Homo sapiens: one gene and its partner. The protein of the gene in region 1 interacts with the protein of each later gene in a pairwise test. Each region holds a gene or a part of one and is shown in the gene's direction. Other genes may lie near its edges.

Region 1 (3,656 bases):
CAGGTTATTTTCCTGTACCGTATATAAAATAAACAGCAGTTAAAATTCAACGTTAGTAAAAAACATACTTTTATGACAAATTCAATTGAAAGTTAAACAGAGTTAACTGTTCTCAGCCCATCCTCCCTCACCCCCGGAAAGTACAGCTTAAAGTTTTAAGCTGAATCAGATGCATGCACTTTTGCTACAGCAGGTAGAAAGACAAACACTCTTATTTCATACTGATGATTTGGCTTGTTTCTATGTAGGAGTGTTTTCATGGTTGAGTTAGTTGGCTAGTTTCTGTTAAACAATAGTAATAAGCACTAACATTTATTGAGTGTTTTCTTTATGCCAGGAACTGTTCTAAACACTTCACATGTATTTAATCATCATCCATATAAACTCTATTAAAGAAATCCTATAAAACAGGTACTATTATCCCCACTTTACAGAGGACAGAGAAGCAGAGGGATAAGTAATCTGTTCAAGATTACAAAGTAAGTGGCAGAGACATGATTTAAACCCAGGAGGACTGATTCTAGAATTCACACTCTTAACCTTTATTATTCCGCTTTCTCAAATGTCAATGAGAAATCTGACCAGCCAAAACTGTCATATTTGGCATACAGAACCAACATTTATACCTTAAATAACCCCATGTAACTGTTCAGAGGATCACAGAATTTTTTCCCCCCTAGGGACAAGTTAGAACTCAGTATTCTTTTCAGTTAAAGTTATATTTCATATTAAGTGGAAAAGAATACTTGTGCGTCAACCTATACTTGTACAAATCCTTCAGATGACTGCAAGATCTCTTTTCTGTGGAAGGTATTAGACCTAGGCCCATACCTATGAAGTTGTTGAACCTTGTCTGGGAGACAAATAAAAATTTATATAACTGAATGACAACTCCTACCATCCCTCATGCATGGCAGAATTTAAAGCAGTCTTCATTTTAAACAATAAAATATTTGTGCTACTGATATTCTTTAGATAATTAAACAATTGTCTATAAGACAAGACCCATCTAGGACTTGTTTTGTTGCTTTAATATTCAGTCTGTAATTATTTCAGGCATTGACAGAAATGCTATTATTCTTTCTTAATTTTAATGAAAGAGTCTAATTTAGAGCCCCAGAATAACAGTAATTTAGTTGAAGAACCTAGTAACTTGTTTCCCTCAGACTGACCCTTAGATACACATTTCTTTCTTTCCATTTAAGTATGTAACTGTTTCACTTCATTATTTCAAATTTTCAATGTCTTAAGTCTTTGTGGAAGTATATTGGACAGAATACATTATAACAAATAATGTAATTAGAAATTCTTAAAACCAAAACTCCTAAAATAAACGTTTTGAAATAAAGTATTTCACCATACCAACTTAACCTTTAATTTAGTTATTCTAAACAGAAATAAACTTTTCTGACTTTGAGCTAAATTAATACTAACTAAAAAATGATTTTAGAATGAAAGTCTCTAGACTAGGAAAAGCCCCTTTATAAAACAAGTGTGTCTAGAACTGTTTTTAATTTCTATAAATTCTTAGATTACCCAAATATATTAGGCATTTAAAAAAGCCTCTTTTTCTTTTTTGTGTTGTATATAAGGTTTCTATTAATTTAATGCAGTTATCTTTTTCTTTTATATTAGTTTCATTAAAACTATCCACCAGTGTTTCACGAAACTTGAAATGAGAAAGGCTTGGAATTGTAAAGATTCATCTCTCTTATAAATTTCAGTCTCATTCTTTCTTAAAGAAAATTCTGTATCACATCTCAATATTTCTGTTAACAATAAAGCACTAACTGTAATAAGAAAATTCTAGTGAATTTTAAGTGGGAATGAGTTTATAAATTCTGTTTAAAGTGAGGCTAACAGGGCTTCATAGGGTTACTTAAATCAGCACTAAAAAACTTTCCTTCTTAGCCCACAATTAGGAGTATGTGGATCAGATGGTCAAATTCCAAAGACACGTACTTTTTATATGAATTTTCTTATGGCTTCCTGCTTATGGCAACTAGATTTATGACTAGAATTTTCCAAACCTTAATCTTCAGAAGTATAATCCATAACTAGAATAGCTAAATAGACAGGTTTAAATAGTTGGCAAACTATTTTAAAAGATGTTACAGAGAGAGTAAGGACTTCAAGGAAGGAAATCTAAGATATAACACAATAATTACCTGCCTTTTAAATCCTTAACTGCAATCAATATCTCTGATTATAGCTCTAGACGAGTATTTTCCTACCACCCTACTTACAGTCCTAAATCTAGAACTTCAGCTCAAGATGTACCCTCATTTTTAGTAGTTTCCACTGCAAACTCTAAAATGATTCTTTTCACTATACTTAGACTGTTAGTTCGCTTTGAAGCTGCCTGTGTCCAAGGTCCTTTTCCACTAAATGACAAAAAATCTGAATGCTATGGCTAAGAGTGAGAAAATCCAATTGATTAGATTTTCTCCAAACACCAGTTTCTCTGACTTAATTTATTCTGAGAGGCCTCCCATTAGTTCCTTTCCATGAGACATTCCAAGTGCCTATAACCAACCCTACAACAGGAAACTTAGGTGCATCTTTTAAGACTCAGACACAAACCTTACCAGAAAGTCTTCCAAAGCACTGCTTCTCAAATGTTAATTTGCATACGAATCACCTGGAAACCTTATTTAACTGCAGAGTCTGATACAGTAGGTCTGAGATGAGACCCAAGAGCCTGCATATCTAAGTACCCAGGTGATGCCGATCCTCACTCTCCATCTTAAGAGCAAACTCTGAGTGGCAGTTCTAAATAACACTTTCAGATAACATTTACATTTCAATAAATAAATGCCTCCCCTCCTTACCTCTATATTCAGACTTAATTATACCTGAATTTACTCATCTGCAAGATCAATGGTAATCTCTAAGGTTCCTTCCAGCTCAATAAATCTAAAATTTACCACCTCTATCCCTTCCTACCCCCAATTCAACAAGCAGGCAAAGTTTATTTACAGTAATACACTGAAAAGTATGAATGACCCTTTCCACTTGATGCTTTAATCCCTTTTTAAGAAGCTGCTGAACATAGAACTAAGTCCCAATCATTTATTCTTTCTGAGTAAAAGTTTGTGCTGATTTTGTTATTTTGTTCCTAGGAAGAAATATTTTAATATTCTTATTCAGAATGCCACATACCAACTCTGGAAACAGAAGGCACCAAAAAGTAGATGTGTCAGCCTTGCTACCTTCTGGATACTTTGTCAAGTGCCCAGATATTTTTCACTGAAATCCTACCTGACTTTAAAAAAATCTCCTACTTGATGCTTGAAAATAACAGCCAAATCTATCTAAAAACTCTGCCCCTAAATTATGCTTTTTTTTTTTTTGGTCTGAGATTTTAATCTCTCTCCACCCCCAGGCTCCTTAAATTTTAAACAGTTAACAATAGAAGAGTCTCTTGTTGTTCTGTAATCCTGAGATGATTATTCTGGTTTTCCTTCAATTATGACAATCACTTTATACCTGTCAAAGTCAGATATACCTGCAATAGCCAGAAGAAAAGTAGATTACATTTTATCAGTGGACATATAACAATCAAATCCTAAAAGAGACTTAGATAATCTCACATGCATGACATCTGTTCTCTACAGGAGTTAAACTGGATTCTAATGGAAATATTCTAGGGGGAA
Region 2 (3,656 bases), on another chromosome or scaffold:
TCCAGACCACAGTGATCTCTTTCTCTGTGTCCCAGTTACATAATCCTTATAATTTTACACATGAGAAAACAAACATGCAGAGCCACGTCCCATCAGAGGGCAAGCTGGGATTTGAGGCTGAGTTTTCTCTTCTTGGTCTGGTGTTCTTTCCGCAGCTTGAGGCTTGACCATGCGGGAACCAGATGGAGAATAAGCGAAGCCTGTGTGGGGCTGTCTCGCCCCGTACTTGCCCATGTGCATGTGTGCACAGTAGGTGCTCAGTGCCTCGTACAGAACATGCTAGAACCCCCGAAAATCAACTCCAGGGCCACTCTAGGAGCATGTGACCCAGACTGTCAAAGTCACATCAGCAAATATGTATCTCATCACGTGCCCAGCCCCAGTACTGGGTGGTGGCAGGAGTGTCAGAGCTGTGATGTGACAGGGTGTGGACAGATGCTAACCTTTTTATTGTAAGATAGAAATCACACCGGATGAAAAGACAAGGTGAACTACATAGTCATTTAAGTTCTGTGTGCTTTAGGCAAATGTGGATATTAAATATAAGGTTACATATTGCTCATATTAATATGAATAATCCCTGCTTGATTCCTTCCTGTGTTTACTGAGACATGTTCAACTACACTAAATAATAGTGATTTTTAAAAAACTTTTCCAAACAGTACAATTTTGTGGGAGTGGTACTCAAAGAGAACAAGAATATAAAATCACTCTGAAGTTATAGCTGATAATTTTTTCTAGGAAAAGGACTGGTTTGAGTAATGTACTGTGTTACTAATGACCACGTTGAAATTCTGGAACTTGAATCTGCTGTATTCTAACATTGTCAACTTTTTTAAAACAGCTGTTGTTGGCCTACTGTACCCCTGTATCGACAGTCACCTCGGAGAACCCCACAAATTTAAGAGAGAATGGGCCAGTGTCATGCGCTGCATAGCAGTTTTTGTTGGCATTAACCACGCCAGTGCTGTATCCTTAATTTTCTGTGCTACGTCCAGAGTATCTTCTTAGGTTATATATTGAAGCGTTTTGTTTTGTTATATACTCAAATGACTCCATGTCATAATACAGACATGATGGTGGTACCTACCCATTTCAGATTACTAAAAAGAGAAAGAAGAATGGGGCTATCGATGACTTCATAGTAAAATATATTGTTTTATGGTCAAAATAAATATATATTTATTTATATTTTTATATATATTATATATATTTTTAAATATATATAATATATATAATAAATATATATTTATATAAATATATATAAGCACTTTATATATAGCTTTCAGCAAGTTTATTCTTATGGTTAAGTTTTTGACTCAGTGATGGCAGGGAGATTTCAGGTGATCTTAATGATTACTGTAACCTGTATCCAACAAATCCTTTCTTTAGCTTATTACACAGTTTTTATGGACAGTGAATTATCTGTGGTACAATAATAAAATACCCATGTTTTTAACCCTTGTGGTTTTACGTTTTTTTATCTTAATAAGAGTCAGCAAACTTTTCCTTAACTTTTATATCACCAGAAATTGGATTTTGCCAATAATGTCCAGCTGTCCTTGACTTTAGCAGCCCTATCTTTGGGCCTTTGGTGGACATTTGATCGTTCCAGAAGTGGCCTTGGGCTGGGGATCACCATAGCTTTTCTAGCTACGCTGATCACGCAGTTTCTCGTGTATAATGGTGTCTATCAGTAAGTGTGTGTTTTCAAATATTGGCTTTGGAAAGCTTACTTAACTTTCATTAAAACATCCACTAAGCTTAGATATTTTCATATTTTATTTGTTTTTTATATAGAATGATACAGATTTAGGCATGAAATTCTCAAAAATGCTGCTATCCATAACTTAATGTAACGCAAAGGAAAACCAAGTAGTAGCAGTTACAACCAAACAAATATGAACATTCGTAACATTGGATGGTTGATATGCGTTCTGCATATCCCCACTACAGAGAATCTGTGATGTAGAATTGAGCCAGGTGAAATTGACTGCTAAGGTACAGTTTCTTTTCTCGCTCCAGGTATACATCCCCAGATTTCCTCTATATTCGTTCTTGGCTCCCTTGTATATTTTTCTCAGGAGGCGTCACGGTGGGGAACATAGGACGACAGTTAGCTATGGTAAGTGAAATGATCATATTATCTTCTAAAACTTGCGTCTCTTTACCTTGATAGAATGACTTTACATGATACATTCAAATTTGCGTTCATATATTCTGGTTCAGACTTGAGTGACAACTACTGAGAAAAGCTTATATTTAAAAAAATAGGTAATGATACCCAGGTAATTCTTTGCTAAATTATAAAAATTCATAATATTTGATCTAGAAAAGGAACTAGAGCCCTCGCACTGCCCCTTTGAATTGCAGATGTGGTCAGTGTTCTGAATTCTTGAAATTTCTGTAGTAAGCAGTAGAGAAAGTGACTGGTGTGTGAGTGTCCCCTCCTCCTTCACCATCGGAAGCAGATCTGGATGACCTCATGCAGTGATACTTTGCTCCCTGAGCATCAGTCCACCAGTGTTTCTTTTCACAAAATCAGAGTGGATGCAGATGATGCTGGCCTCTTAGTCCACAGTCAAGCAAATCGAGCCTGAGGCTGCAGAGTCTGTCTCGGGCCAGGGCAGGGACTAATGTGGGTGGGCAAGGGGACAGCCTGGTTCAGGCAGGCAGCACCTTTCTGTGGGGCAGGTGGCCCTGGGCATGGAGAAGTGGTGATGAGAGCACCGCTGCACGTGGCCGGGTCACCATGTAGACGGACTGTCCTGCCTGAACATTGCATCTGTTCTCAGCTGCAGGAGAAAGCAGTGCTACCCCGCAGAGCTTCTCTCACAGCCCCCCTGAGGGAGACGGAAAGGTAGTGAACTCCAGGATGGCTTTAGCAGTTCTCATTAGTTAAAAATTGACATCTTAGCACTTCAATTTAAAAACATAGAGGTGGACTTTTAAATGTTATTTTGAGTTGACTTTGGCAGGCTGAAAGAAAGTAAATTAAAAAAAACAACAAAAACCTAGAGCTGTTGCTCTCGGAGATAAGCTCTGGGAAAACTTATCTTAGTACCTCATGCTATTTTTAAAACAGTACATTTATTTTTGCCAGCTGATACCCTTCTGTGAGGAGTTGAATTTGAAGACCACTTGGCTGTTTCACAAAACCAGAAGTAATTACAGGTAGAATTTGCAGTCTTCCACTGGTTACTGACTCTCTGCTGCCAAATTTCTCATGATGGAGAAGAAAGGACTTTGCTTGCCTTTTTTTTTTTTTTTTTTTTTTGAGACAGAGCTCTGGAGTGCAGTGGTGCCATCATAGCTCACTGTAACCTTGAGCTCCCGGACTCAAGCAATCCTCCCGCTTCAGCGTCCCGAGTAGCTGGGATTACAGGCACATGCCACCATACCCGGCTAACTTTTTTGCTTTTTGTGGAGATGTTATCTCCCTGCCTTGTCCAGGCCGGGCTCGAACTCGTGGGCTCAAGCCATCCTCCCACCTTGGCCTCCCAAAGCACTGGGATTATAGGCGTGAGCCTGGCCTTGCTTTTTTTAATATTAAAAATCTGGTCGGATGGTCCCACATGGAAATAGTATGTTGTTTTCATGCATTCGCCATCATCCCCGTTAATAGTCTTCAAAGGAGAGCTGGCAACTCCATCATT

Evidence for each region. Proteins that work in one complex are often made in the same cells at the same time.
Region 2: the proteins of HTR2B (region 1) and INSIG1 interact in a two-hybrid assay, tested with the Homo sapiens proteins (one large-scale study listed by BioGRID and IntAct).

Annotation. Positions count from the first base shown.
Region 1 is NC_000002.12:231,114,888-231,118,543, reverse strand, and holds part of HTR2B (5-hydroxytryptamine receptor 2B), read left to right. Parts: intron 1-3,656. UniProt on the Homo sapiens protein: G-protein coupled receptor for 5-hydroxytryptamine (serotonin). Also functions as a receptor for various ergot alkaloid derivatives and psychoactive substances.
Region 2 is NC_000007.14:155,300,722-155,304,377, forward strand, and holds part of INSIG1 (insulin-induced gene 1 protein), read left to right. Parts: intron 1-844; coding exon 845-969; coding exon of another isoform or gene 970-999; intron 1,000-1,529; coding exon 1,530-1,696; intron 1,697-2,025; coding exon 2,026-2,125; intron 2,126-3,103; coding exon of another isoform or gene 3,104-3,174; intron 3,175-3,656. UniProt on the Homo sapiens protein: Oxysterol-binding protein that mediates feedback control of cholesterol synthesis by controlling both endoplasmic reticulum to Golgi transport of SCAP and degradation of HMGCR.